7 linked regions of the Homo sapiens genome follow. The protein of the gene in region 7 interacts with the protein of the main gene of each other region in a pairwise test. Each region holds a gene or a part of one and is shown on either strand. Other genes may lie near its edges.

What was found.
Region 1: the proteins of TAB1 (region 7) and AATK interact in a two-hybrid assay, tested with the Homo sapiens proteins (one study listed by BioGRID and IntAct).
Region 2: the proteins of TAB1 (region 7) and SERPINA4 interact in a two-hybrid assay, tested with the Homo sapiens proteins (one large-scale study listed by BioGRID and IntAct).
Region 3: the proteins of TAB1 (region 7) and XPO7 interact in a two-hybrid assay, tested with the Homo sapiens proteins (one large-scale study listed by BioGRID and IntAct).
Region 4: the proteins of TAB1 (region 7) and HNRNPR interact in a two-hybrid assay, tested with the Homo sapiens proteins (one large-scale study listed by BioGRID and IntAct).
Region 5: the proteins of TAB1 (region 7) and ROR2 interact in a two-hybrid assay, tested with the Homo sapiens proteins (one study listed by BioGRID and IntAct).
Region 6: the proteins of TAB1 (region 7) and ZMYND11 interact in a two-hybrid assay, tested with the Homo sapiens proteins (one study listed by BioGRID).

What each region holds. Positions count from the first base shown.
Region 1 is NC_000017.11:81,159,201-81,163,588, reverse strand, and holds part of AATK (serine/threonine-protein kinase LMTK1), read left to right. Parts: intron 1-4,388. UniProt on the Homo sapiens protein: May be involved in neuronal differentiation.
Region 2 is NC_000014.9:94,560,238-94,564,241, forward strand, and holds the start of SERPINA4 (kallistatin isoform 2 precursor), read left to right. Parts: upstream 1-1,204; 5' UTR 1,205-1,257; exon of another isoform or gene 1,258-1,478; coding exon of another isoform or gene 1,479-1,572; intron 1,573-3,228; coding exon of another isoform or gene 3,229-3,245; coding exon 3,246-3,894; intron 3,895-4,004. UniProt on the Homo sapiens protein: Inhibits human amidolytic and kininogenase activities of tissue kallikrein.
Region 3 is NC_000008.11:21,925,549-21,929,936, forward strand, and holds part of XPO7 (exportin-7), read left to right. Parts: intron 1-4,388.
Region 4 is NC_000001.11:23,337,070-23,341,457, reverse strand, and holds part of HNRNPR (heterogeneous nuclear ribonucleoprotein R), read left to right. Parts: intron 1-437; coding exon of another isoform or gene 438-449; coding exon 450-606; intron 607-2,849; coding exon 2,850-2,968; intron 2,969-3,596; coding exon 3,597-3,704; intron 3,705-4,388. UniProt on the Homo sapiens protein: Component of ribonucleosomes, which are complexes of at least 20 other different heterogeneous nuclear ribonucleoproteins (hnRNP). hnRNP play an important role in processing of precursor mRNA in the nucleus.
Region 5 is NC_000009.12:91,750,656-91,755,043, reverse strand, and holds part of ROR2 (tyrosine-protein kinase transmembrane receptor ROR2 isoform 1 precursor), read left to right. Parts: intron 1-4,388. UniProt on the Homo sapiens protein: Tyrosine-protein kinase receptor which may be involved in the early formation of the chondrocytes. It seems to be required for cartilage and growth plate development. Phosphorylates YWHAB, leading to induction of osteogenesis and bone formation.
Region 6 is NC_000010.11:239,582-243,969, forward strand, and holds part of ZMYND11 (zinc finger MYND domain-containing protein 11), read left to right. Parts: intron 1-474; coding exon 475-530; intron 531-1,311; coding exon 1,312-1,389; intron 1,390-2,439; coding exon 2,440-2,558; intron 2,559-3,012; exon of another isoform or gene 3,013-4,388. UniProt on the Homo sapiens protein: Chromatin reader that specifically recognizes and binds histone H3.3 trimethylated at 'Lys-36' (H3.3K36me3) and regulates RNA polymerase II elongation. Does not bind other histone H3 subtypes (H3.1 or H3.2).
Region 7 is NC_000022.11:39,419,987-39,424,374, forward strand, and holds part of TAB1 (TGF-beta-activated kinase 1 and MAP3K7-binding protein 1), read left to right. Parts: intron 1-1,840; coding exon 1,841-1,985; intron 1,986-4,388. UniProt on the Homo sapiens protein: Key adapter protein that plays an essential role in JNK and NF-kappa-B activation and proinflammatory cytokines production in response to stimulation with TLRs and cytokines.

The sequences.
Region 1 (4,388 bases), on a different chromosome or scaffold from region 7:
CCCTGACACTCGGGAGCGTGGCTGGGGGATTTCTTGGCAGCTGCAGCCTTCCAGCCTCTGTGCTGTGTGGCCTCGGACTACTCACCCAGCCTCTCTGAGATCCGTTCTGCACATGTGAAATCTTGCTCTGGGGAGACTAGTGTGGGCATGGCGGCCAGGAAAAGCAGGGTGATGGGGGTGACACATGGGCAGGATGGCCGGGTCCAGGCTGGCAGGAAGGGGGTGGCATGGCCTTGAGCGAGCAGAGGTCACCCCTTCTACCTGAGTGCCCCAAGGGAGGGGGCTGGCCTTGTTGCTCACCCTCCCCAGCCTTCACCTTCCCTGGTGCGGCCTCAGGGCGTCATGATTTCTAGTCGTCCTGAGCCCTGGGGCCTGGAGCTGTCCTAGGCTGGAAGTGGGCATGGGGACACCGCCTCGCTCCGGCTTCTGGAGAGGCGCGCTCAGCCTGAGGGTGGGGGTCAAATGCTCTGCACAGTTAGGAGCAGGGGTTTGCCCTGGGGCCACCTCTGGTTTGCTGAGGGGCCCTTCTGTGACTGGCTCTCCATGCCTGTTTTGTCATCTGTAAGGTGGGAATGGCTGTGATGGCCAGGTCTGAAGGGACAGCAGTGGTGCACTGAGCCAAGGGTGGGTACCTGGGCAGTGCCTACCATGGCTGATCCCTGACGCAGAGGTGTCACTGTTGACCAGTGGGCAGGGCTTGGAGTTTGTGGAAGTTCTCGGAACACGTGGCAGCCTGGATTTGCCACCCCCCAACCCCCGCCTCTCCCCTGTCCCTCAGCTCACGCCCTGTCTCCTGCCCAAGGTCTCTCCCTGTGTCTGACCTGAACCAGGCGCCATGGGGGGTTCCTGGGAGAAGTGCCTGTGCCTGGCCACGGTGCTCGCTCTATCAGCATTCATGTGAACCGGACACCTGGCACAGGGCTGGGCAGGCTGGGCCTCAGGATGAGCCTATTGATGGGGAGAGGGCAGAGGAGGCAGCGAGCCCCGGGCCAGGCATGGCCTCAGTGGCAGGGGCAGGGCTGGACTCAGGGGCTCAAGGGGCTGAGCAGGAGGCCATGGGCCTGGGTGGTCCCCGGGAGTCCTCCCCTTGGAAGGTGCCCCACAGCTGACACTGCCCGGGCACCAGGTGTGGAGTCTGTTTGAAGGCAGCTGCTGCTTCAGTCTCCCAGACCACTCAGGCTCAGGCAGCAAGCACCTGCCCTGGGAGGAGTTACCTGTCCTCCTCTCGCCCCCGGGGTCTCAGAGGATGCCCCAGAGGAAGCTGTGCCCATGAGTTCGGCCCATCCCCCTACTTCCTCTCAGGTCTCAGGTCTCCCACCGAGACCCTTAGGCTGCAGGTGTGCAGGCCGAGGTGGGTTCTTGGAGAGGGTCCCATGGGAAGGCTGTGTGGACAGTGGCCTTGGGGAGCGGTCACACGCAGGCCGTGGGCCCTGGGCACGGGTCCGGCTCCCACCTACCAGCATGGGTGCGGGCACTCGGGGAGGGTGTGGGTGTCGGCACTCGGGGAGGGGGTGGGTGTGAGGCCCCACACTCCCAGGCATGGGTCAGGGAGAACATTTCTCTCATTCCGGCACATTCTCCAGGAGGCCAGGCTGTGCGCTTCCCTCCATGGGGTGGTGCAGTGACCCAGAGGACCGGCCCCTGCAGTGGCCACCCTGTGGGCCCGAGTGCCCCAGAGCTGGCTGGGGTGGGCTGGCAGCTGTTGTGTTGTGTGGAACATGCTGGAAGGTCTGCCTTGTGCCACCCTGCATGTTTGGGATGCATCGACTCCCCGCCATGCCCTCTGCCTCCCCGGCTCCCAACCCTGACCCTGCCTCACGGGAGAGTTCTGGCGTGGGCTGGTGTCCTGGGCCGGGCCCTGCTGTGTGACCATGGACAGGTCTCATAACTTCTCTGTGTCTGTTTCACCTCTGAAATGGGGTCCGGCAGCACCCACGCTCCAGGAGGTTCCTGAGAGAACCCGGGGGCCGTCACGGCAGCTCCAGGGCTGGTGACTGTTCACGTCCTCTCTGCACTCACCCACCACCCCGGCCGCCTGGGAACTGTGCTCCTGCCTGTGCCCCCTGGAGGCATGTGCTGAGTGGAATATGTCACCCCAAACCCATGCCCGCCCAGTACCTCAGAATGGGGCCTTATTTAGAACTAGGGTCTTTGCAGCTGTAATCAAGTTAAGATGAGGTCGGACCGGAGTAGGGTGGGCCCTGAATCCAATGACTGGGGCCTGATAGAAAGAGGAGGAGTGGCGTGCACGCGGGAAGGAGGCCACGTGCAGAGGCTGGAGTGATGCAGGCCCAGGAGCACCTGGGGCCGCTGTGCCGGAGAGGCAGGAAGGATCCCGCCAGCGCCTCGAGGGAGTGGCCCTGCCCATGCCGTGCTTTCCTCCTCCACTGTCCAGAACTGTGAGCACATCCATTCCTTGCCGTCTGGGCCAGCAGCCCGTGGTCCCAGGACACACATCTGGGGGTCTCCTTGGGTCTGAGGGGTGAGCACAGCTGCCTCGAGACATCAGGAGCCTCTGACTCCATCCTGAGAAGAGTTATCCTTGGAAGAAAATGAGGCCACGTGCTAGCCCCCAGCCTCAGAACCCTCCAGGGCGCTTGGCTGGGTGTGAGGAGGAAGCAGGCCGGGGCCACAGCTGCGTGGCATCCTCTGCCTCCTCCTCGGTCCACGGGGGAGGCAGAGGGTCCACGGAGCACCTCGGTGTCTCCTCGGATGTGGTGTCGGCGGTGAGCCTGGGACCACGCTGTTCTGCTGTCACCGGCCTCCTGTCTCCAGCTCACGGGGTTCTTCCGGGGTAGGCTTTTCTCGAGGGCCACCTGACCCCTCTGTGCACGCCAGGGCAAGGCTGACGGGAGGCCCACTCGACCACTCCTGGGTGGGAGCCTGATGCAAAGCACCTGCCGTGGGGCCTCGGCCTGCGGTCCTGTCCCTGGTGGCACAGATCCAGGGGCCCAGGAGCCCGTGTCCGTGGTGGGGAGACTCCCGTCCCCTCCGCAGGCCACAGTGACAGGAGGGCTTTGGCGTCTGGGCCCCCCTGGGCCTTGCCCTGCCTTTCACAGAGGAACAAGCGCCCGCGGGACCGGCGGCCTTGGCCTCCCCGCCCCCCCGCAGAGGAAGCCGGCAGAGGAAATGAGGGCAGCGGACGGGGCCGGAGCCAGTTCCCAGGCACCTCTGAGAACTGTCACGGGAGGCGGCGTCCTCGCCGGGTCTCCAGCCTCCCTCCGCAGGGACCGGGGCCTGGGGTCAGGGGGCTGCGGCCTTGGGTGGGGCTGGGGCGGGCTGGGGTCCTCCCGGGGGTCACTCTGGGGTTACAGCCACGGTCAGAGCCACGCGGGAGCGACACCCAGAGCCTGGTACGTGGGGGTTTCTGGGAGGATGCGGGCTGTGCTCCCACTGCCAGCCTGGGGGTGGGGGCCGTGGCCAGGAGACTCCTGCTCCTGCAGGGACCCTGCCAGCGGAGGTGGCCGTGCCAGAGCAGGCAGGGCCTCTGCAGTGGGCGATTCTGGGCAGCCGGGGCCACCTGCCCCAGGGGGAGTGAGGGGCAGGATGCTACCCCGAGCCAGGGCTGCTCAAGGCCACCTCTCACGGCGGGGCGTGGCCAGCCTATCCCCATCTCACCCTCGGGGAGGGTGTGGGGTCCCTGCTGCTGAGGGACAGGAATCTGGCTCTACCCACCTGCCAGGGTCCCCAGGAAGACCCCTCCCTGTCCCTGGTATCGGGTAGCCCTGGCCAGCTGGCCTGGGGGAGCCAGGCTGGGGGGCAGGGGAGCTGGTCCGGGACCAGGGCTCTGCCGAGTCACCTCTGTGCCAAGGCCACGGTTTGAGGCTGTGGCTTGAGGCCGTTGTGGGATGGAGCTGGGGATGCCGTCCTCGGTGTGAGGATCCTCCGACGAGGCCCTGGTGCTCGGTGGGGCCCCTCTGGCTTCCCTTCTGCTCTGCTTCTGGGAATTCTTAGTGACTCTGAACAAGGGGCCTTGGGTTCCCTTGGTACTTGGTCCTGCGGATTCTGCAGCCGGTGGGGCTTGCTTAGGGTTTGGGCTCCGCTGTGAGGCCCACGTGGAATTTCCTCGAACCCCCTGCGAAAAAGGCGTGTGGCTTCCTAGTGACCACGGCACACACAAGTGCGCTCTGACCTCCGGGGTGCGGGTCCGGGGCTTCCCCGCATTGGATTTACCCGCGCGGCAGCACGCCCAGCCCCCGAGAGTCCCCGCCACTGCCCCCAGGACTGCTACCTGGCCGGTCACTCGCAGGCCGCCGGCGCCCTCCCAGCTGCCCCATGTTGGGGATCTCGCTCGCTCTCTGTGAATGATGCTCAGTTGTGGGCTGTCCCGTGGGCTGCTATCGTGGACGCTGGAGTGAGGGCCCCTTTACTGAGAGGTAACTCACATA
Region 2 (4,004 bases), on a different chromosome or scaffold from region 7:
GAGCTAACAATGTCTCCGGGCTTACATTTTCTCATGTGTAAAATGGGCCAAGCTTAGTATACCTAGAGTGTATAGGCAAGGGAAAGAGAGAGATGAGTGAGGGAAAGCGAGAATCCACTGAGACAGTAGCTCTCACTTTGCCTGACCTGCTAGCTTCCTCTCTTGTCCTGGTGTTGACCCATTTTGGACCTCAGGCCAGCTGGCTCCAGGGCTGTGCTTGTGCCTGCTCTGCCATCCCCATGTCTACATCGCTCAGGGCTCCCAGCCCACTGTGCTGCTCAGTGGTGTATATTTCACTTACCTTAAGGCCCAACGACTTGGAAACACATCCAGAAAGTCTGCTAGAGGATGCCTGAATGGTCAAGGTCATCTCAGTCAGGGCACCCAGGGCCACATTGCTCCCTGCAGTCCTTCCCCACATAGCTTGAGAAATGGCTGCCCCAGGAGGGTGCAAGGGTGCAAGGGTGCAGGGGTTCACTGATTACTGGGGAGAGAACAAGTTCAATTCCATGGTTAAAGAAGAAAAATGCAAATTGAATACCTGGCCCAAGGAGGTTCCTGGTCCCACCCCATGCCACCCTTGCCCTGGGATGTACTCTCCTTATGGTCTGACCTATGAGATCTCAGTGGACTCTATCCTCAGAAATCACAGAGTCCAGGATTGCAAACTGGAGGCCCTGCTGTGAGGCCCTGCCCACAGGTGGGTCTTGCCTGGCCTGTAGAGAGCTGGCTCTCTCACTTCCACACATCCCCACCATTCCCCACCGTGGCACCATGGAGTCTTCCTTACCTGATCTAGGAAGGCGGCGCTGGAGCTTGCTGCCCCCTGTCTGATCCAGCCCCTCATGTTGTAGGAGGGAGGTGGGCGACTGAAGCTCAGAGAGGGAGTAAATGAGCTCAACTTCACACAGCTAGTGAGGGGCTGGTTGGAGACCAGATTTTCCAAGTGGTTCCCCGGGCCCTCGGGGAGCAGCAAGGGCCAGGCGAACCTCCATGCACTGCACAAACATGAAGAAGTGAACCCTCTTGGGGTTCCCCAGGTGGGAAGTGGGGTGTCTTCTTGGGAGGGGGTGAACCAACTTCTGGTGAGTTTTCCTTGTTGAGGCAATGCTGCACCCGTAGCCTGTTTGTTAATAATTACCTGGTCGGGAGAGAGTGGGTGGTACTGAGAAGGCCTGGTTTGACCAGTCCTCCTGGGCTTGATAAGACAGAGCTGAGACAGCCACCCAGGGGGTCCACTCCAGGACAGACTGTGCCGTGAGTAACCCCCTGAGACAATGGAGACGAGAGACTCTAGAGGGAGGGTGACCAACTGTTCCACTTTGCCCAAGACTGATAATTCTTCTGGGATATATTTTCAGTGCTAAAACCAGGAAAGTCCCAGGCAAGCTGGGACACTTTGTCACTCTTGCTAGAGGTGAGAAATACTCAGGCTAGAAAGGCCCCGACTTAGGGTCCATGGGCACTGGTGGGTGACTATGCCCGGAGACCCAGAAAAGCCTCCCCCAGGGACACACAGCTGGTACAGGGCGGCACTGACTGAGGGCCAAGGTCTTCTGGCTGCCAATCCAGGTGATCTTGGGGAGCTCATGCCGGAGGGGAGGTGTGTCTGTGAGTGATGCGGTCCTATGTATGTTTCTAAATGATCCCTCCAACTGCTGAGTGGAGAACAGAGAGCAGAAAGACTAGGAAGCTTTCTGCAAGGGTCTAGGTCAGGGGTCAACAAACCACAGCTTGTAGGTCAAATCCGGCCCACCGCCCATGAGCTAAGAATGCAAGATGTAAAATATAAATATAAAATATAAGTGATAAGTATAAAAGATAAATATATAAAGCTATGAAAAATCAATAGAAGAACAACATTTTGTGACACAGGAAAATAATATGAAATTCACATTTCAGTGTCCGTAAGTGAAGTTTCACTGAAACACAGCCACGCCTCTTCATGCATGTCCGGTCTGTGGCTGTTTCCAGCTGCCACAGCAGAGTTGGGTAGTGGCAGCAGAGACTGTGTGGTCTGCAAAACCACAGATATTACTATCTGGCGCTTTGCAGAAAAAGTTTTCTGAGCCCTGGTTGAGGATCATAGCAAAAGAGGGGGCGAGAGGCTGAAGAACCTACAGGAGAGTCTAGGAGTTGGAGACCAGCTTGGGCAGCATGGTGAGACCCCAACTCTATAAAAAATTAGCTGGGTGTGGCTGTGCATGCCTGTAGTTCCAGCTACTTGGAAGGGTGCATGCCTGTAGTTCCAGCTACTTGGAAGGGTGAAGTGGGAGGATCACCTGAGCTCAGGAAGTCAAGGCTGCAGTGAGCCATGATTACACCACTGCACTCCAGCTTGGGTGACAGAGTGAGACCCTGTCTCAAACAAACAAACAAACAACCAAACAAACAAAAAAAACCCAACCCTGCAGGTCATGGAAGTGGATTAAATGGATTTTGGGTGGATAGAAGCCTAGAAGCTTTTTGGCCTGACAACCGGATACTGGTGGGACCATTTGATGGGGCAGGAGCAGATTTGGGGGAGAAACTGGAGTATCCTTTCTTGGACAGATGTTCATTATGAAACGGGTACCAATTCTATCCCCACAACTTTGGGCAGGTCACTTATTAAACATCCATGTCCTTGTCTGTACGGGGTAACAATACAAAGACCAGTTCTACTGACCTCTACAGGGGTGGGAGGGTCAAACTAAATGGCTGAAAGTGGTTTGTAAACCATATAAAGCACTCCACAGATGTTTGTGGAACAGACCCTAAAATAAACTCTGAGGATAGCCATCCTCCATGCAAAATCACTGCACTAATGAAATCAACTCATCTGAAAGACAAGTGTGGGAGAAGCAGCACCTGAGTCTGGGGATGTGGGTTCTGGCTGGGATATGTGCTAGGTAGGTGACTTGGGTGAGTCACTTTGGGAGTCTTCATTTCCTGCTCTGTTGGGTGAGAATGGAGTCTAGTGCTGTGCAGAGCTCACACAGGTGGGAAACACAATGACATGATGGACACAAGGAGTGTGCCTTGTAAGTCTAAAACATTGCCATCCAATAGTGTTGCTGTCACCATACATGTGGAAGGTGGTGGGTGTTACATTGCCTTTCACAAGCCCATCTGCAGGAGTTGAGGGTGTCACTCACGATCTCCGGGTGCTGGCCCACTGCCAGCCTTCTCAGTAGGGCCAGGTGTTCTTCTGGGGGAATTTCCTGGGCATTCTCTTCCCTCCCATAGGCCTGAGAGTGCAGAGGATGCATCTTATCGACTACCTGCTCCTCCTGCTGGTTGGACTACTGGCCCTTTCTCATGGCCAGCTGCACGTTGAGCATGATGGTGAGAGTTGCAGTAACAGCTCCCACCAGCAGATTCTGGAGACAGGTGAGGGCTCCCCCAGCCTCAAGATAGCCCCTGCCAATGCTGACTTTGCCTTCCGCTTCTACTACCTGATCGCTTCGGAGACCCCGGGGAAGAACATCTTTTTCTCCCCGCTGAGCATCTCGGCGGCCTACGCCATGCTTTCCCTGGGGGCCTGCTCACACAGCCGCAGCCAGATCCTTGAGGGCCTGGGCTTCAACCTCACCGAGCTGTCTGAGTCCGATGTCCATAGGGGCTTCCAGCACCTCCTGCACACTCTCAACCTCCCCGGCCATGGGCTGGAAACACGCGTGGGCAGTGCTCTGTTCCTGAGCCACAACCTGAAGTTCCTTGCAAAATTCCTGAATGACACCATGGCCGTCTATGAGGCTAAACTCTTCCACACCAACTTCTACGACACTGTGGGCACAATCCAGCTTATCAACGACCACGTCAAGAAGGAAACTCGAGGGAAGATTGTGGATTTGGTCAGTGAGCTCAAGAAGGACGTCTTGATGGTGCTGGTGAATTACATTTACTTCAAAGGTGAGAGTCAGATCATTGGTATATGCTAAATCCACACCACCGCCTCCAACCCACTAATTTGTTGACTGGTTAAATATATTTTTACAAAAATGTAAGTAAAAACGTTGTGT
Region 3 (4,388 bases), on a different chromosome or scaffold from region 7:
TTGTAAGACTTACTGGAGTGTGACTTGGTTGGTCATAGGGAAAGGGGGATACCAGTATTAACTGAGTGTCTGTTATATGCCAGGCACCATGCTAAGCCTTTTATAGTGTTATGCCATTTAATTGGGAAACTCGTTTGGTCTCTGAGCCTGGATTAAGTGATCTGTGAAGTCCCTTGTACTTCAAGCATTCTGGATGGGATTTCCAGTTGTCATCCTTGTATTCTCTCCCCAATATAGCACCGTGTTCTCAATTCATATGTACATGTTTGTAAAATTCCTTAAAATATTTATGCTCAAACCAACATTTCCATTTTATCTATCTTAAATATATCTTCCTCTTCTTTACGCCTAATTTCTTAAACTCCCAGAGTTTTTTTCTGTAAGATCTAGTCATCTGTAGCACTTCTCACAAATTGAGCTCTCTTATGCCCCAAACAGTAACGAAAGAGGTCTCTTAGTTGGACAATAAGCAGTGAAAGATATTTCTTATGGGACAAGAAATTAACATTATTAGTCAAATGTTGATGCCGGTAGGCTGAGAAATGATTCTCACTTAAAAGCCCCTGGGTTTTAAACCTCTCTTAGAAAAACATTAGTTAGATGAAAAAAAAAATCAAAATATTTTCCTCTGGAAAACAATGTTCCTCTGAAAACAAGCAGATTATTAAAATATCCCTTGTACTACTTCAGGAAATTGTAATCTTATAACTGTAGTGGCCTTTTAGCTTTTAAATATATGAACTTGAGTTGGACACATGCTGATCTCATTGGTACTTTGCATGATAAGAAATTATGATATTTACAATGTGCAGTCTCAGAAAGAACTGAGAGTTTTGCTAGACATTTGCCCTAAAGTTTGAGTCAATTTATGGTTTAAAGGGGTGTATTTAAGGCTAGAAAAGGGAAATGAAGGGTTTTCTTAGGATTTTTTCCAATTCTATTTAAAATTGTTTGCAAAGTTTTGAAAGCATATGTCATGAGTTTGGCAAAAATTATTTCAAAGCTTGTTTTTTTTTTAACCTCATTCACCTCTGCTAACTCCTGAACTTCAGTGCTTTACTTCTGTCTTCCAAAAAGACGTTGTCTAAAATTAGTCATGAAATTTAACTTAACTGTAAGAACTTGAAACATAAAGTTTGCTCTGAAAAAGATCTGGGAAACCTGATGTATATTTCACATATCAATACATCTGTTGATGTATTGATAAAATCTATACATCTCAGTTGAAAAAAAATCTAAATTTTGCCCAATATATAGCCACAAATTATTTAGAATGTAATGTTCGTGTTAGTAGGTGATATTTTTGTCTTCAGCTTGTCATTGACCCATCTAAGGATCCCTGCGAGGTCTTGTCAAAAACTAGCCTGGGGCATACCCAAGAATTTTAAAGATTAAATAAAACTTACTGGAAAATGTGACCTTGTTTTCCTTAGTCTTAATATTTTGAACTGATAATGTTCCAGAACTGAGCAACTTTCTTCAGGCCTTCATAAAACCAAATTAAATTGTTTTTAGGTGAATTGAACCTGAGCAACAGGGAGTATTTAAGGACAGGCCAGGCAGGGGCACACATGCTTGTAGTCCCAGCTACTGGGGGGGAGGCTAAGCTGGGAGGATCACTTGGGTACAGGAGTTCAAGTCCAGCCTGGGTAACATAGCAAGACCCCAAGTCTTTTAAAAAAAATTAATTAATTAATTTAAATTAAATTCAAATAAAATAAGGACATTATCCCACAGGTGTTACAAATGAAAATTTGTTGTAATGTAAAGGATTATTTACTAGTTCTTGGAATTCTACAGTTAGCCACACTCCATACAGGGAGAGCAGAATGTTGTGAGCAAGAAGTTTTAATTTCACAGAATTCCTAAAACCTGTCCATTCAGAGCTGTTTGGTTTAGGTTACTGTTAATGTACCCTAGAGGTTCCCAAAGGCACATTTCGTGTTAACATTGATAGCATTGATAGGGTGAGACTTAAAAAAAACCAACCTTTTTTTTTTTTTTTTTTTTTCTTAAGATGGAGTTTTGCTCTTGTTGCCCAGGCTGGAGTGCAGTGGCGCAATCTCGGCTCACGGCAACCTCTGCCTCCCGGGTTCAAGCAGTTCTCCTGCCTCAGCCTCCCAAGTAGCTGGGATTACAGGCATGCACCACCACGCCCAGCTAATTTTGTATTTTTAGTAGAGACGGAGTTTCTCCATGTTGGTCCGACTGGTCTTGAGCTCCCGACCTCAGGTGATCCTCCTGTCTCGGCCTCCCAAAGTGCTGGGATTACAGGCGTGAGCCACCGCACCTGGCTGACCCAACTTCTTATCTATTCCTCCCATACCCGTCCCCTCAAATGTAAACAGCACTCACAAAAGTGGATATTTGGTTCATAGAGATTACTGTTGTGTAAATCTGTTGCCAGTGGAATAAAATCTTTCCTTTTTACTAAAATTTTATTCGTACAGTAAACTGCATCCATTTAAAGTGTACAAATTGACAGATACATACACCTGTGACTCCGGGATCAAAATATGGAACATTTCCTCTTTGCAGTCTGTTCCTCCCTCAGCTCTCAGACCCACACAACCCTGTTCTGCTTTCTGTCACTATAAATTAGTTTGCATTTTCTGGAATTTTATATAATGGACTTACTGTATACTCTTGTTTTCTGACTTCTTTCACTCAGCATAGTAACTCTGAGATTGATTCTCATTGTTGCATAGTAGGAGTGCTTGGTTACTTTTCATTGTTGCCAAGTATTCCGTTGTATGAATATATCACATTGGATGTATCCATTCACTCTTTGGGAGACATTCAGGTTGTTCCCAGTTTTTAGTCATTGTGAATAAAGATGCTGTGAATATTCATATACCAGTCTCTGTATGGATGTACATTTTTATTTCTCTTGAGTACCTGGGAGTAGGATGGCTGAGTCTTATTGTGTATGTTTACATTTTTAAAGAAACTGTCAATTTTCCAAAATGACTGTACCTCGAGTTATTTCATAACTTCGCCAACATTTAGTATTGTCATTCTTTTTGCCTTTCTAGTAGGATCTTGTGTTTTTAGTTTGTACTTCTTTGATGACTAACATGTTGAGTATCTCTTCATGTGCTTACTGACATTTGTATATCTCAGGCTTGCAAACCAGGCTGGTGTTTTGGCCTGACAGCCTGTTTTTGTATGGCCTGCACCCTGAGAATAGCTTTTACATTTTAAATGGTTGAAAACATCTAAAAGAATAATACTCCATGTTGCATGATAATTATATGAAATTCTGATTTCACTGTTCGTAAATAAGTTTTATTGGAACATGCATTCATCTATGTATCCCGTATGGCTATTTTTGTACCACAGTGGCAGAGCTGAATAGTCTTGACAGACATTTTGGCCTAAAATATTTACTTTCTGGCCCTTTAGAGAAAACATTTGCAGACTTCTGGTAGATCTTCTTTGGTGATGTGTCCCTTCAAATCTATTGCCTGACTTTTGGGTGGAGGACGTACCAGCCCAGTATGTTTCTAACCCAAGCCCAGTTTGACAGGAACTGCATCAAGTTCTTCAGTTGTACCAACCACATTTCAAGTGCTCAGTAGCCACATGAGGCTAATAGCTACCATATTGCATAGTGCAGATATAAAATATTTCCACTCTCATGGAAATTTCTATTGGACAGTGCTACTCTAGAATAAACTTGCCGCTGAACCAAAGGGATTAGAAGCAAAGTGGAACATAGGTTATAGGATTGCTTTCCTGGATGTCGATAAAAATAAGCTAGATCCTCGTCCTCTCAGATGTGTGTGAATGCAAATGGATATATTTTGTTATCCATGTATGTCCTGTTCTCTTGGCCAAGTGATGAGAGGAAGCAGTTAACTCATAAAAGAAATTCAGAATTTTACTGATAGGAAATAGTGTTTTAAGGGGAAAAAAACAAGTGTTAACTTATCATCTGCCAAAGCATTTTGCAAAGAACAAACCTTCTAAAATTCCCATATAGTTGTAACTGTTTTACAGATGAGATGGAGAATATGAAGGGAGATAGTAAACCATGAAATCACTTTTTCCTGGTGCTAAGTCCTGATTCACTAGCAATCGTAGTTCTCTTCAGCTTCTAATTTTAAAGTATTATTTACCATAAAGTTTTTCATAATAGCATGAGTTTTGAAAATAATTCAGAAATATTCTAAGTTGAAATGGCTAAGATAGCCTATTTTAAGATTGAATTTAAAGGGTTTTTTTTTTCCCACTGTAAACTGTTTTGTGTGACTGCGATAAGGGGCAGGCATAACTGACTCTAAAGAGTGAAGTGGAAGTCAGTAAATCTGTGATTACATAGTCATTCTCTTTGGCAAAAATATTATGTAATTATGAATTATTTTGTTCTTAACATAGAGATGTTT
Region 4 (4,388 bases), on a different chromosome or scaffold from region 7:
ATTTGAAAGTCCTTAAATCTTGATTAAGTGGTCTGTGGGTGTTCATTCTGTTTTTAAAACAAAACTTTTTAAAACTGTGTAAGACCCGAGAGCTGAGGGGCTTTTTAGTAAAGGATTTTGTAGTGATTTTGATCTTTTCACCAGGACAGAACAGCTGCTTTTGTTAATCAGCAATTCTACCTTCAGTAAATTAAAGCCTTTATCTTACCCGGTGTACATGAAGTTCCTTAAAGATCTAATGCTTCCATGTACATTTTCTATGGTTTTACAGGATTATTATTGCCAATTTAGGTCAGATACATCACAGGAGGAATAAATTATTATTTTGATAGAGGTTATTAGCAGCATGTATACAAATTAGTTTAGATAAATCATGCATTGTCCTACAAACTAGTTATTTCTGGCTTAATGTAATATAGCTCCTGAATTTTTTCCAGCAGCATAATAAAATGGCTAATCAGGTGAATGGTAATGCGGTACAGTTAAAAGAAGAGGAAGAACCAATGGATACTTCCAGTGTAACTCACACAGAACACTACAAGACACTGATAGAGGCAGGCCTCCCACAGAAGGTGGCAGAAAGACTTGATGAAATATTTCAGACAGGTATAATATGCATTTCTTGTTTCTGACTGGTTATGAAAGTGAGGGCAAACCACTTTGAATTTTATAGTTTTTTAAGGTTAAATAATACTTATTGTTTCTGATCTGTAGAGCTGAATGTTTGTTACTTTCCCTTCATTGAAGGCATATTGGGTTTGACTTTGATACTCTTATTTCATTATTTTGAAGCCTTCTTAGTGTTGAATATGCAGTCTTAGTTGTTTCAGAACAGCACATCGATTTGTCTTAGATTTACCACCCATAAAAATGTATGTTTCTGCATACCAAATTTTACATTTTTTTCTTAATCAAAATCAGTCATCATTTTGCTTTTGCTTTTCTACTTTTACCTTCTTAAAGTGATTGTTAAATCAGCTTAGGTCTGATTAGGTGGCATAACAAGAGGATAGCTGTATCGTCTGAAACCATAATAAATGTCAGACTCCTTGAGAGTTTGTGGCTTGTCTAGTTTCTAATAGAAATCCACATCTCTCCGTAATTTGGAAGTGTTTGGTTGTAACAGCTGCTTCTTTTTTTTTTTTTTAATCCAGAAGTGCCATGGTTAAGTGCTTAAGCAAATTTGAACATCTTAATATAGTTGGTTGTAAGTGGTTTGAAGTTTTAAAGAGGGAGAGAAATATTTACCCTTAGGGAGCGTTGTTCATAAATGAATGTGTCCTCCTCCTTTGGGGACATAGATGGAAACTTTCTTCCTCTGTGTTGTGTGTGCCTATTCAGATTCTGAGAGAGAATTGAATTGTCTCACTCACAAATGTGTCTTAAGTACAGTAGTAGCAAATAGCTGTTTTTTTTTTTTTGTCCTTAAAAAATTTTTAAATCTGGGAAGCTTAGCATAATTTTAGACATTAAAATGACTTATAAAAATGACTCCTGGGTCATGGTCGCATTTGAAAATCAGTCCTCAGGAACTTTCTGTGACATTCTGCCATAGAGAATTGGCAGTGATCTGCTTAGAGATGCTCTCTTGTAGAGTGTTTTGTTATTGATAAGAGGCTGATGGTTTGGGCGTAGACTTGGTTTGACAAAATGGATTGATGGGTGTCCTGAGTTGTGGCTTCGGGTGGTGGTATGGAATATTCAAGTGAGGCAGCTCCAGTTATTTACACATGCTCATTTCGAGCTTTTGAAACAAATCATGGCAACTTTTTTAAAAAGTAACTTTGGAAGTGGCATTACATTTATTTAAAATTTACTATATGGAATAAAGTTCTTTTTAGCTTTATCAAAATGGAGTCACTTTTCATGTTCATATGAACTTGGGGGTTTTAATCTACGAAATACTTGCATTTTACGTTGGATCAATTCTGAAATATATTCCATATGTAAATATGACACAAACTTAACAGACTTAAGAAATTATATTTTAAACTTAGTAGATGTTCTGTGTGCAGTTGAATATACTTACATATATGAAATGCAGTGTATATATTTTCTGTCAAGTTTACTTGTAAGACCATAAAGTCTTTATTGCCATTTGAAAATGATTGTCGTTCTTGACAGTCAATGTGAATGCCACAGCATCTTTTAAATCTCAGCTTGTCACTTCAGAAGAACAAAGAATGCCTTAAAGTATGACTTTCAGAATTGATTAATCAAGCTGCACTTGCATTTGTAGAAGTTTAAAATTATGCCTTTCCACATTCTGACTGCAGCAAAGTGGATGCTCAGATAAACAAATGCATTTCAGTTTATCTTTGGTGTTCAGGAGGGAAAGCCTTTTGACACTTTTTGGAGAGTGGAAAGAATTACTTAGTAAAATTTGTTTTCAGATTTTCCTCCACCTCTTAGGTGGTTAGCATCAACTGTAACCGTCTGTAATTTGAAGGTTTATCCTTGGAAAACGCAATGTATTCTTATCACTCTAATATAAACCAAAATTTGTTGTATTAATGCATAATCTGTAATACAGTATGTACATCAGATTTAACTTTCAAGACTTATACCTTTGGGGGAGTGGGAAATGGATGTTAGGATTTGGCGGGGGAGGTTTGTGGATATGGAGATTGAAATTCATGTTTTTGGTTGTTGACATTTTATCTTTATTTTCATATTTGTCCTGGACCTTTCTATGTAGTATTTGGATAGCTGCGTATATGCATATAGTTAAATGAAAATACAGTTTGTTAGTGATCATATTGAATGTAACAATTCTTGATTAAACGTCAGTAGAGCTTAGATTACCCCTTTTGTTGCAATAACGTTACCCCTTTCAATTTAATTTTTAGGATTGGTAGCTTATGTCGATCTTGATGAAAGAGCAATTGATGCTCTCAGGGAATTTAATGAAGAAGGAGCTCTGTCTGTACTACAGCAGTTCAAGGAAAGTGACTTATCACATGTTCAGGTAAGGTCGTTACTCAGAAATGTCTTTGAACAATTAGTAATCTGAAATTATTTTACTATTACTTTTTTTCCTATGGAGAAGTGGTATTTTTTGTTTGTGACTACCTCTTCTTTTAAAAAATTAGTTTAAAGGAAAAAAACTGCTTGTGGCAGAGTTTCAGAAGCCCAAGTATAAAGCAAAAGTTTTCTCCCACCCCCTTGTGCAGTAAGTTATTTTAAAAACTTAAAATTAAAGCCAAGTTTTGATGGTTGTTACTATAGGTTTTTACATGTTACTCAGCTTTTTAACATTTGGGGGTTATTTGATCCTGTTTTATTATCTTGGAGGAAAATGTAGGTGGGAGGAATAGTTTCCGACATCTGGCAAAGACAGTCTAGATACAGTCACATATCAACAAGTGGAAGACTGTGTTTTCCCAGGGTAGAAGGTAAGCTCCCTGAGGTCTATACTGCCTTACTGCTGTCTGCTCCAATCTCTGGCACATAGTAACCACTCGGCAAATACTTGTTGAATGAATCAGTAAATCTTTTGTTAAAATCCTGGTTTTCTGAAATTTAAATTTAATTATGTATCTGACCCTTCAGATATTTTTGGTGATTCTTTTTATTGAATTACTTGTCTGTTCTAGAACAAAAGTGCATTTTTATGTGGAGTTATGAAGACCTACAGGCAGAGAGAGAAACAGGGGAGCAAGGTGCAAGAGTCCACAAAGGGACCTGATGAAGCGAAGATCAAGGTAAAACTTGACTTGGGTAGTTGTAATGAAATTGCATTTAATGATGAGGTCAAATGCCTCTTTCCATGTTTCCTAGAAAGTTTCACTTTTTTTTTTTTTGAGACGGAGTCTTGCTCTGTCGCCCAGGCTGGAGTAGCGGCGCAGTCTTGGATCACTGCAAGCTCCACCTCCCAAGTTCATGCCATTCTCCTGCCTCAGCCTCCCAAGTAGCTGGGATTACAGCCATGCACCACCACACCCAGCTAATTATTTGTATTTTTAGGAAAGATAGGGTTTCACTGTGTTGGCCAGATTGGTCTCGATCTCCTGACCTTGTGATCCGCCCACCTCGGCCTTCAAAGTGCTGGGATTACAGACGTGAGCCACCACGCCCAGCTGAAAGTTTCACTTTTCAAAACTAGTGTTTAGAAATGAAATAATTTAGAGGAATTACATAAGAAGGATAATTTTGGGGATCGACACTCAATTGCATGTTTAATGAAAAGCCCTAATTCATACTCTTCCTCATTCCCTCTTTTGTGGCCATGAATGACGTATATTTATTGATGCTTCGCTGGTAGTTTCTTGGATTGATCCAGTAATGTCTCTTGGTTCAGTTATTTTCCAGCCACTTTGTTTCTTTTCTCTTGATAAAAAGGTTATAACTTGATAAAAAGTTGTTATAACTGCTTTCCTCCTTTTGAA
Region 5 (4,388 bases), on a different chromosome or scaffold from region 7:
AGCTGGGACTGCAGGTGCGTGCCACCACACACCCGGATAATTTTTTCTTATTTTTTGTAGAGATGGGGTCTCACTATGCTGTCCAGACTGGTGACAAACTCTTGCCTCGAGCAATCCTCCTGTCTCGCCCTCCCAAATCACTGGGATTGTAGGTGTGTGCCACCACACCTGACCTAGAGGGAAGATATTTGGGAAGATTCTGTGCTGAGCAATAGTGATGGAGCATTTTTCCTTAATAGTCCTTCAGACACAGAGTAAGGAAAGAAGAAATTGCATCATGAGCACAATTATGGGGCTTTGGAAAAAGGCATATAAGTCATTTCAAAAGTTGAACTATTGTTCTCTCTTATTTTATATTTATGTCTTTTATTTTAGTTATTTTATTTTTTGAGACAGAGTCTCGCCCTGTCACCCAGGCTGGAGTGCAGTGGTGCAGTCTCCGCTCACTGCAACCTCTGCCTGCCAAGTTCAGGCAATTCTCCTGTCTGAGCCTCGAGTAGCTGAAATTACAGATGCGCACCACCATGCCCGGCTAATGTTTGTATTTTTAGTAGAGACGGGGTTTCACCATGTTGGCCAGACTGGTCTCGAACTCCTGACCTCAAGTGATCCGTCCACCTTGGCCTCCCAAAGTGCTGAGATTACAGGCATGAGCCACTGCACCCGGCCTATATTTATGTATTTTATAAATAAAACTTTTATAGTTCATTTATATATAGTTACATAAATATATTATGTAACTATATAATATATTGTAAATACATAACATATAATTACAGAGCTATAATTATACAAATATTAAACATTCATATATTTATATACAAATTGTAAATATATATATTTATATAAATTATTTCACAATATTTTTACATTGACTTTCTTCTCACTTTAAGTTATGGATTTAATCCACACATTGATGTAAATGACTGGGGCAGTTTCGGAAAGTCCCGCCTGACCTCCCATCCTTCCAGGCCTCCTGCCTCCCTTGTCATAAAGGTAAATCATCCAGGGAGTTTGTAGGCACTCAGTACATACATACATCTACCTAAGGAAATACAAAACAATCAACTTGAAAAAAGGTCTAAAAGCACATAAATTACTCAGTATTATTGAGGCAATGAAGAAATATGCTTACCTATACACTATTGATGAGAAATTTCTGGAGTGCTATTTGACAATAAACACAAAAATATTTTTAAAAAGAAATACCTCTTATCAGTTTTATATACTTTTTTACATAAATGATGCTATACTTGACATGTTTAGTTAACAGTATTCACAGAAATCTTTCCATCTCAGTGTATTTGAGGTTTCCAGATGCTCTCTTTCCCTGTTTCTGGACTCATGTGCAGAGCATGTGACTGTTCCATTGTGACAGGCATTCCCATCAGGGAAGCCTCATCCCAGCCACTCGTGCCACCGCGTCTCCCTTCCCTGGCCCTGAGACCTGTGGCTGGGTTTCTCTAGGAGAGATTCTGAAGAGGAAAAACTAAAGGGGCACAGGCATCCCCTTTTTAAAACTGATACTGCCAAATGGTCATTCGTAGGTTACTTTCCCGACAACGTCAAAGGACCCATTTCTCCTTATCTTCCATAAGATGACTTCCAAACTTGTTAACTTCTGCCACTCTGAAGGATGAAAAATGAATAAATGACCTGCTTTGTTCTCCATTTCCCTGGTTACTAGTGAGGCTGAGCATGTGGACACACATTGCTTGGCACTCATGTCTCCTCTTTGTCAATTGCCACTTCATATTCTTCGCTCATTTTTCCTTTACATTGTTTCTTAATGAATTTTGATAATTCTTTATGTCTTATTTCTTGATCATATAGAAATTAAAACTTTTACAAATTAATAATTTGTTTTTCATGTTATGTCTTGTTAAAGAATGTCATGATTTCCTTGAAAGATTCTGATGGTAGTTTGATTGGAATTACAATGAATTTTTAGGTCAGTTTGGTGAGAATTAATATCTAAATTGAATTTTCTTATCAAGGACTACTTTCCTTTGTGTTTTGAGGTGTTTTCTTTTTCTTAACATTTTATAATGAAAAATTTCAAACATACGGTTGAAAGAATTTTATAGTGGGCTCCTGTATACTCACCAGCTAGATGCTAGCATTTACATTTTACTGTGCTAACTTTATCACTTATCGTTCCATCCAGCCTCCATCTGTCCATCAATCCATCTGATTTTTCATTCATTTCACTGAGTTGCAGATACTTGTACATTTACCCTGAAATACTTCAGCATATATATCATTAATGAGAGTTCAGTATCTGTTTATGATTCTTGCTCCTCCTTCTTCAGTTAAAATTTGCATACCAGTGAAATGCACACATCTTAAGTATAGCACTATAAGGTCTGACAAATGCATAAATCTCTGCAATCGAAACACCCTATCCAGATACAGAATCTCTGTCACGCTTGCAGGCTCTGTCGTGCAACTTCCTAGTCAACTCCCTTCTACCCCAGGCACCCACTATTCTGATTTTTTAAGTAATGGACTAGTTTTTCCTGTTATTAAACATCACAGAAATGAAATCCTTCAGGATGTAGCCACTTAAGCCTGGCGTCCTTTTAGCATAGTGCTTTTGAGATTCATCTGTGTTGTACATGTATCAGTAGGTTACAGCTGTTTATTGCTGAATAGCATTTTATGGTATGAACATACGCGTTGATTTATCCATTCTCCTGTTGAAGGACACCTAAGCAGATTCCAGGCTTGACTACTATGAATAAAGTTCCTTGTATAGGAATACTCTATACTTTTTGTGGACATGCATTTTCATTTCTGTTAGTGTTAACTAGGCGTAGAATTGCTGCATTATAGGGCATGTGTGTGCTTAATTTTATAAGACATTCCTGGGCCTTCTCCTGAACTCTTTTTACCTCCACCCACAGTGTGGGAGACTTGTGATGACTCCACATATTTCCCAACATTGGTGTGGTCAGCCTTTTTAAGTGTAGCTATTCCGGTGTATGCAGTGATTCAAGTGATTTTTTATATCATTCCAGCCTCTTGAAAAAGCAATTTTTACTAGTCATTTTTAAATTTTCAAATAAATGTATTTAAAGCTGTAAAGTTTCCTCTGAATACCATCTCCCTGCTTCCACCACGCATTTAGGCTTCTGTTGTTTGATACTGTTTTCTGATTTTTGTTGCATTATTATTAGTGAATATGGGCTGTTTATGTTTTATTCTTGATAATTTATTGAGATTTTTCTTTGTAACCAGTTAGATACGGTCCATTTTTGTGAATCTTGCCTGTTGTTTCAAAAATACGTGTGCTTTGATGTATCTGCACATTTCTTGACTCATCTGTGAGATTGAGTATTAAGTATGTTATTAAAAATATCTATATATTTTTTATCCACATGAGTACCAGATACCTGAAGATTTGTGAAAGTCACCCACACTCAATCTGGATTTGCTAGTTTCTATTAGTTCTCTATTTTTAATATTTTGTGTGTATTTTAAGGTTATATAGGTTTTTGTGGGGTTTTTTGGTTTCTTTTTACAGTCCCTTTTAGTGCTTTTTGCCTTGAATTCAGTTTTGCCTAACAATAATAGAGTTCCACATGCTTTTTAAATTTGCATTTGCCAGGAACCGTTTTTATGATTCCTGTCCCACTCTTTAGTCTTTCACCTTTTTGTGTTCTGTTTTATGTAGGTCTCTTGTAAATGATGCATAACTAGACTTTTTTTGGGAGGTTGATGTGGAGACCTTTCCAGTCTGAAAGTCCATGTTAATACATAGTTAAATTCATTTTAACTAATATACAGTATTCCATTCTGTGAGTCAGTTTCCACTTGAATCATGCATTGACTGCCGAGTGAAGGTTAGTTCTTTTCACTGATAGGGACCCTCTTATAGTGACTGTGCATCCCAAGTCTCTTTGTCCCTATGGGTGAAAGTCCTCCAGGGACAGAGATCAGGAAGCAGGATTACGGGTGTGCATCTCCCACCTCTCCCAGGAATGGCCAGATTGCCCTCTATGATGGCCAAGTCATTCATAGCCTCACCTGCAACACATGAGTTATTATTTCCTCATGTTTTCTAGCACATGGTATTATCAGAACTTAAAATGTTGCCAGCATCTTAGGTGTCAAATAGTAATTTTACATTACATTTCACCAGTAAATAGTGAGGTTGAACATCATTTTGTCGTTCTAAAAGCCATTGCATTGCCTGTGTGTATCCAGCCTATCCTCATTATTTTCAGATTCCATATTTGCAAATTTGCTTATTCACTAAACTTCGTGTCCCCCAAATCAACACTCGTGGTATTTTCATGGTCATTCTTGGACATGCACAGAGTGGAGAAAAACCTGAGCTCCCTGACACATGTTTCCAGCTGAGACTGAACCAAACTACACTGCCT
Region 6 (4,388 bases), on a different chromosome or scaffold from region 7:
GTTGAACACTATCTTTTATAAAACATTACTTTCAAAGAATTAATACCTTAATGATCTACAAGTTTAGAGTATAAGGTTAGGAATATCTGGTGATATAGATTATAGAATGGACTGGCCAAAAACAAAATCATAGTATACTAAATGATGAAAACACAATTACTCTTTACAGTTTTATATGTATTTGTTTTAGCTGAGAGGTTTTTAATAAGCACTATGATTAATTCTGATCATTTCCCCACTAGTACCACATCATCCAAAGGTAAGGTCATTCTCTATACCCTGAGAATTAGTGGTTGTATTGGATGGAAAACAAAAGCTGCCTGTGTAATTTTATTTTGCTATCGTTATTTTAAATGGACATTTTGGTTTGAAATGGTAGATGTCTACTTTTGCAAACTGAAAGAAAAGGATAGTAACTTTGAGTCTTGTATTTGCAGACTATTGCTTATAGGTAATATCTATTTTTAATTACAGCAGACAGTGAGCAAGCTGACATTGCGAGGATGCTATATAAAGACACATGTCATGAGGTACTATTCATTGCCCAATAGTTATACTCTTTCTATAACTGAAATTAATTTATTTCAGGATTCCACTCTTATCTACATTTTAGTTGTGCCATTTCCTTTAAATGTCTTTTATTGCCGGGCGTGGGGGCTCACGCCTGTAATCCCAGCACTTTGGGAGGCCAAGTTGGGCGGATCACGAGATCAAGAGATCGAGACCATCCTGGCCAACATGGTGAAACCCTGTCTCTACTAAAAATACAAAAATTAGCTGGGTGTGGTGGTGTACGCCTGTAGTCCCAGCTACTCGGGAGGCTGAGGCAGGAGAATCGCTTGAACGTGGAAGGTGGAGGTTGCAGTGAGCCAAGATTGCGCCACTGCACCCCAGCCTGGTGACAAAATGAGATTCTGTCTCAAAACAAAACAAAAAAAGGTCTTTTATTTTCATGTTTGACATACATGAGGCAAAGGTAAGGACTGCTGTGATTGGCAGCAGATATTGTTACCTTCCTGAGGAATATTCAGTCTGAAGTGCTAACCAGTGAGGTCCGGGCAGGGCCCAGTCAGACCAGCCTCAGCTTCTGTTCCAACTGTGGCCTGAGACCAGCGACATGGTTCTAAGAGGACAGTGACAGGGTCTTCCAGTACCATTTATTGAAAACTTTAAAATTTAGGCTTAAAAGATTAAGAAACAAAATTCAACACTATTTATATACGTGAATGTTAATTTACATGGATACATTTTATATAGTTTAATGTGTATGTATATTTTATGTAGGCTAAAGTAGTTTCTTTTCTTTTTCAGCTGGATGAACTGCAGCTTTGCAAGAATTGCTTTTACTTGTCAAATGCTCGTCCTGACAACTGGTTCTGTTATCCTTGTGTATGTGAAATTTTTACCTCAAGTGTGTAACATACAGCTCTAAGGAAGTTTATTTCCAGTTTGGTTAAAGATTATAATTTTCTTCCTAAATTTTTAAAATATCATAGTATATATGGGTTTAATGAGTATAAACAACTGAAAAAAAGTAACAGGGCTTGTTATCCATTTCTGATTTTAAAATGAGATACTGAATAAAAATAAATATTGGGTCCTTTTTCTTTTTGAGACAGGGTCTCACTCTGTCGCCCAGGCTTGAGTGCAGTGGTGTGATCTCAGCTCACCGTAGCCTTGACCTCCTCCAGGCTCAAGTGATTCTCCCACCTCAGCCTCCAGAGTAGCTGGGACCACAGGCACACGCCACCACACCTGGCTAATTTTTGTATTTTTTGTAGAGATGGGGTTTTACCATGTTGCTCAGGCTGGTCTCAAACTCCTGAGTTCAAGCAGTCCTCCCGCCTCGGCCTTCCAAAGTGCTGGGATTACAGGCATGAGCCACCACACCCAGCGTCTGGGTCCCTTAATAAAGTGAATTTTTGTTTCTCCTTTCATCCTTTCACAAGAGACCTAAGGCTTTGCCTTTGTCTGTAGCTGTATAATTTCCCCAAAATAATACAGCTTCAAACCGTGCACTGACAAAGGGAATTCTGAGCATTCTTGGCCGGCAGCCTTGGCTGCCTGAGAGAAGCCAGCCCTGTGAAGACAGTACTGTGCCAGCCTAAAATTTCCCCATTTCTAACAAATTCCCAGGGGTGCTGGAGCTGCTGGCTCCCCAGCTGCACTTGGCCAAGCGGGTGCTCTTGTTTGCCACCGTCATACATGTGGATGGCCTTGCTCCAGTCCCGACCTCTTCTGAGGAATAAGGTTCATGTTGGCACTCTGATGCAAATATAAAATCAGTCAATCCCAGAAAAAAAATCTCGTATGTGTTTAGGAGTTATGAAAGAAATATTTTAGAAATAATGGATTATATGTGACTAGTTTAATATTAATGGTACACTTGCATTTAATACTTTAAAAGTAATATAACAAGGTAAAACATTTAATTTCCAGATACCTAATCATGAGCTGGTTTGGGCTAAAATGAAAGGTTTTGGGTTTTGGCCAGCCAAAGTCATGCAGAAAGAAGACAATCAAGTCGACGTTCGCTTCTTTGGCCACCACCACCAGAGGTAATTTGTGATCCCATGTTCAGCGGTCACAGCTGTGCTTATGAAGTCCTTAAGAAAGTTTGATGATTTCTCCATCAGAGATGCATGAAGTTTATTTTAAATTGGAAAAAAAAAACACATTATGCATCCAAGAATACGTTCCAAGATAAATTGTTTCCAGATATTTTTCAGATATTGTGTACTAAACAGGAATTTTTAATAACTGACACTGTTGAACTTCAGAAGCACATTACGGTTAAGACTGAATTTATAGTACAGTGGGCAGAAGGGCCTCAGAATGTGTCCATTCCATAATATGGTAATGGAATTACCATTACCATATTCACAGTTACTCTAGTTGCTCCAGCCATCTTCAAGGCTCAGTTAAAGACATATAGACTAAAATCGTCAATCTTGTGATCTTACAATGTGTGTAAATACCTGAAGCGTGCGTGGAAATAAGCCATAATAGGAATAAAGAATTCACATGCAATTTATTTGGTTCATTTAACACAGATATTGAGATAAGGTGAAAAAGTGACAGAAACCAGCTACATGATCTAAAAGTCATACTTTGTAAGGATTTAAATGAACAGTCCATGAGGTGTCTCCTGTCATGCCAGGAGGTTATTAGTGCATAGAGAAGCTACACAATGAGGGACCTTACTCCTCCCTGTGGTAAATTTTTACTTAGTCTTCATTAATTTAATTTAAACAGAAGTGTAGTTATAAGAAACCTATAAATACTGTAAATTTCCCAGAAGGTAGTTCTGTTCTTTCATAGGTAGATACACACTTACCTGACACTGTCATGTCAAGAAACATTAAATAATGATCCAATAAAATAACTCAATACAAAATGAATGTTTTAATTACATTAAGTGGTAATTTTTAACATATGCTTAATACATCATACTCGGATGGTTTCAGTTTCTTATCAGAATAGGCAAGGAAATAATGTATTTTTGGTAGGTTAGGGTAAGTCTTTATGTGAGATTGTGTTCTTGCTTCACTGTCTTCTACCCTAATCTTGATACATTAGTCAGTTTCTCTGAGCCTTAGCAAAATAAAGGCCTCATAAGAGTTTTTGTAAGGTTTAAAGAAATGTTGCTACAGAGAGACCTGAGCATAGTACCTAGCACATAGTGAGTACTCAATAAATGTCAGCTTTTATAATACAACAGATATTCAAGGAATAACGGGGGAAAGTTTGCTTCAATGTTTTTCACATTAAATAAAACACAGTTAACTTAGAAAAAACAAGAATTCAGTTATTTTTATAGCCATACTAATAGGTAAGAATAATCTGATAATTAGAACTTTTTATCTATATATTTTTCTTTTTCATCAACTTGCAAGTAGCTTTATACTGTCTTCAACCATGAGTGATATTAATAATGAGTTAACTTGTTAGATGTCATTCAGTATACTATGCAGAAAATATTTTTAAAGAATATTTGGGTTAGGCCAGGCACGGTGGCTCACGCCTGTAATCCCTGCACTTTGGGAGGCCGAGGCGGCTGGATCATGAGGTCAGGAGATCGAGACCATCCTGGATAACACAGTGAAACCCCGTCTCTACTAAAAATATGAAAAATTAGCCATGCGTGGTGGTGTGTGCCTGTAGTCCCACCTACTTGGGAGGCTGAGGCAGGAGAATGGCGTGAACCCGGGAGGTAGAGCTTGCAGTGAGCAGAGACTGTGCCACTTCACTCCAGCCTGGGCGACACAGTGAGACTCCGTCTCAAAAAAATAATAATAATAATGGTGCTAATCTGCAGCAGTCCTAGAGTAGTCTGTCACCTGAAGAGAGAATTAGGAAACATCAGATTACATTTTCAGAGGTATTTT
Region 7 (4,388 bases):
GGGCAGCAACTAGTGCCACAAGGGAGGCAGGCGAAGCCAGAGTTGGCATGGGATGGACAGACCAGGCCTGTTGGTCGGTGCTGCCCATGGCTGCAGCAGAGGTGTGAGATGAATTGTGTATTTCCCTCTGAGGACACCTCCTCTGGACATCACCCCAGCGCTCATGGCAGCAGAATGGGCAGTCATCATCACACGGCCAAGCCCGTGCAGAGCTCTGGATGTACCTTCTTTTATGCATTCCCTACTCAGGCCCCCTGAGGCAGTCACTGCCATCACCCCAGAGGCATTTTCATAAGAGGAAACTGAGGCATGGAGACATCAGGCAGCCCACCCTGGTCATGGGGCTTGAACACAGGCAGCCTGAATTTGGAATATGTGTCCTTAACCGTCAGGTAACCTGTATGTGAAGTGTTGGTTGGGGAGATAGGCGCGTCCACTTGCCTGATGCCAATCATGGCATTTAATGTCATGGCCAAGGCTGTTCCCAAAGCCAGAGTTCCCATCAACAGAGGCCTCATGGCCTAGAAAGTGCATGTTAGAACTCCTTGCCCTCACGCGATCTAGGCAACTGAGTGTCGAATATTTGTCCCTAATTTGTGGGGTCCTGTTTCCTTTATTGGAAAGGACATCCATAGTTTAAAACACTTCAGACAGTGCTGGGGTCTATACAGGGAAAGGAAGTCTTCCTACACCACACTCTAGGACTCGCTGCCTCCCCAGAGGCTGCTAGTTTCTTGTGTATCCTGTTCCAAAATCTGGCCACATGCACATATACACACACGGTGTCTCTGTGTGTGTGTGTGTGTGTGTGTGTGTGTGTGTGTGTGTGTGTTTGTCCTGGGGGCCAAGGAGCCTGCATCCTTTTCGGAACACCCAGGTGCTGGGGTGTCTCTCTCTGTGTGTGTGTGTGTGTGTGTGTGTGTGTGTGTGTGTGTGTGTGTTTGTCCTGGGGGCCAAGGAGCCTGCATCCTTTTCGGAACACCCAGGTGCTGGTGTGTCCTGCCCCTCCCAGGTGCTGGTGTGTCCTGCCCCTCCCAGGTGCTGGTGTGTCCTGCCCCTCCCAGGTGCTGGTGTGTCCTGCTCCTCCTTCTTTTCTTTTTTTTTAAACCCTAAGGTGTAATTGGCATATGCAAAGCTGTGCCTATTTCATGCATACAACTTGATGAGTTTGGAGATATGTTTACACACCCCTCACTGCTATCATTAAAGGTGCTCATCTCTTCATTCTGCTCACCTGCAGTTAGGATGGCGTCATTCTGTGTAATAACCGCTCCCAGGGCCCAGCCCTGGCTGACGGACCCTCAGGAAGTTCTTAGACTCCGCTCTTCTGGATGGTGTTGCCAGCACCTCCTCATGTACTTACCTCCATGTGCACACACATGTGTTGGCATGTAATGACTCTGACCCCAGTCACTAAAGGATCCCTGTACACATGGAGAGTATCTGGGGTCTCAGCCATCTGTTTTGGAAAAGCCCAAATAATAGCAAGAGGCTTGGGCTCCCAGGGATAATCCCTCCCTCTTGCTGTCCCACACCCTGCCCTGCCACCACCGGACCCTGTGAACAGGACGTATGGAACAGGCCAGAATCGGGCATTCAACCTTTGCCATCCTGACCTCAGCTGCCTGCCAGTTTTTATGGCCTTCCAAGCTTTATTTTAGCAGCTGCTGTAAGACGATGGGTCTATTTTTCTGACCTTCTCTTTCTCTCTTTTCTTTTCCTCTTGTCAGGTTGTGTGTTTTATTTTACATTCTGGGCATAGATTCCTCCCCTCAGCAGAATCAGCATCCACCTGCGGGCTGTTCCAAGCAAAGCTCTTCCTTCCACTCTCTCCCCATAGCGCTGCCAAGTCCAAACCAATCATCGCAGAGCCAGAAATCCATGGGGCACAGCCGCTGGATGGGGTGACGGGCTTCTTGGTGCTGATGTCGGAGGGGTTGTACAAGGCCCTAGAGGCAGCCCATGGGCCTGGGCAGGCCAACCAGGTGAGTTGGGCCCAGCCACGCCCATGGCCGGAGAGCGTGGCTGGCCTGCATGGTGATGTGCTCACCCTGCCTTCTAGCACTGTGATTCTCGGAGGCCGTCACCAGACATCTCTGGGTTCAAAGCTGGGGGAAGGAGAATCCCAGAGCTCTGAAAACACCCATCCCACCCAAAAACTTGACTCATTTTAGGCTTGAAGCAGTGCCAGTCCTCAGGGCCTGAGCAAGGTCTGAAGGGAAGAGGGGGAGATGGATGTGAATTGCTATGGGCACGGCATTACTCTGAGACGGCCAGGAAGGGGCCAGGGCCAGGAGGAGAGCACAGAAAGAGATGTGCAGAGTCCTTCCCACACCCATCACTTCCTGCCAAGGGCCTGACGGCTTTACTGCCCTCCCTGAGTGGCAGACAATTTATAGTTTGCTTCTCATTTCTTTTTTTTTTTTTTTTTTTTTTTTTTGAGACAGCGTCTCCCTCTGTCACGCAGGCTAGAGTACAGTGGCATGATCTCGGCTCACTGCAATCTCCGCCTCCCGGGTTCAAGCAGTTCTCTGCCTCAGCCTCCCAAGTAGCTGGGATTACAGGTGTCTGCCACCACGCCCAGCTAATTTTTGTATTTTTAGTAGAGACAGGGTTTCACCAGGCTGGTCTCCAACTCCTGACCTTGTGATCCACCCACCTCAGCCTCCCAAAGTGCTGGGATTACAGGCGTGAGCCACCGCGCCCGGCAGTTCACTTCTCATTTCTACAGTGAGGATGGTAACATCTGCCTTTGTGAGATCGCAGTGAGGTTAGGCGTGGTAGACACAGGCCCTCAGCCAAGAGTTGCTTATTTTTCTTATACCTTGGAGTCACCAAAGTGTGACTTCAAGACAGTCACGTTAGGGATGGTCTCAAAGGAAAACTGTCTTTCCCTGACCTCCTTGGATTGCTGACTGGCTAAGATAAGTTCAGTTTGTGTTCCTCCTCCTTTCTGTGATTCTTGTAGGAAGATAACCTTTTCTGCTTTGACTTTTTTTTTTTTTTTTTTAAGACTTGCTGTGTCACCCAGACTGGAGTGCAGTGGCGTGATCACGGGTCACTGCACCCTCAACCTTCTGGGTTCAACCGATCCTCCAGCCTTAGCCTCCTGAGTAGCTGGAACTATAGGTGTGTGCCACCACACCTGGCTAATTTTGGTTGTTTTCTTTGTTTTGTTTTTTTGGTAGAGACAGGGTCTCACTGTATCGCCCAGGTTAATCTCAAACTCCTGGTCTCAAGTGATCCTCCTACCTTGGCCTCCCAAGATGCTGGGATTGTAGGCATGAGCCACTGTGCCCAGCCTGCTTTGTCCTTTTTAATTAAAAATCATGTATTGGCCGGGCACAGTGGCTCATGCTTGTAATCCCAGGACTTTGGGAAGCCGAGGCAGGCGGATCACTTGAGGTCAGGAGTTCGAGACCAGCCTGGCCAACATGGTGAAGCCCCGTCTCTACTAAAAATACAAAAATTAGCCGGGTGTGGTGGCAGGCACCTGTAATCCCAGCTACTCAGGAGGCTGAGGCAGGAGAATCGCTTGAACCCGGGAGGTGGAGGTTGCAGTGAGCCAAGATCGCACCACTGCACTCCAGCCTGAGCAACAGAGCAAGACTCTGTCTCAATCAATCAATCAATATCATGAGGAAAAAGTCTTCTTTAAAATTTGAAAATTAATTTTTATTTCAGTAGCTTTTGAGGTACCAGTATTTTTTTGTTATAGGGATGAATTATGTAGTGGTGAATTCTGAGATCTTAGTAAACCAGTTATTCCAGTAGTGTACATTGTAAGTAATGTATAGTGTTTTATAGTGTACATTGTAACTAATGTATAGTGTTTTATAGTGTACATTGTAACTAATGTATAGTGTTTTATAGTGTACATTGTAACTAATGTATAGTGTTTTATAGTGTACATTGTAACTAATGTATAGTGTTTTATAGTGTACGTTGTAACTAATGTATAGTGTTTTATAGTGTACATTGTAACTAATGTATAGTGTTTTATCCCTAGCACCACTGCCATCCTCCCGCCTTGAGTCTCTAAAGTTCCATTATATCACTCTGTATGCCTGTGCATTCCCATCATTTAGCTCCCACTTACGAGTGAGAACATAGTTTGTGGTTTTCCACTCCTGTGTTACTTAGAATAATGGCCTTCATCTCCATCCAAGTTGCTGCAAAAGACATTCATTCTTTCCTTTTACTGGCTGAGTAGTATTCCATAGTTTATAGATACATTTTCTTTATCTGCTCATTAGTCAATGGCCACTTAGGCTGGTTCCACATCTTTGCAATTGTGAATTGTGCTGCTATAAACATACGTGTGCAAGTATCTTTTTCATATAATGACTTATTTTCCTTTAGGTAGATGCCCAGACTGCTGGATTGAA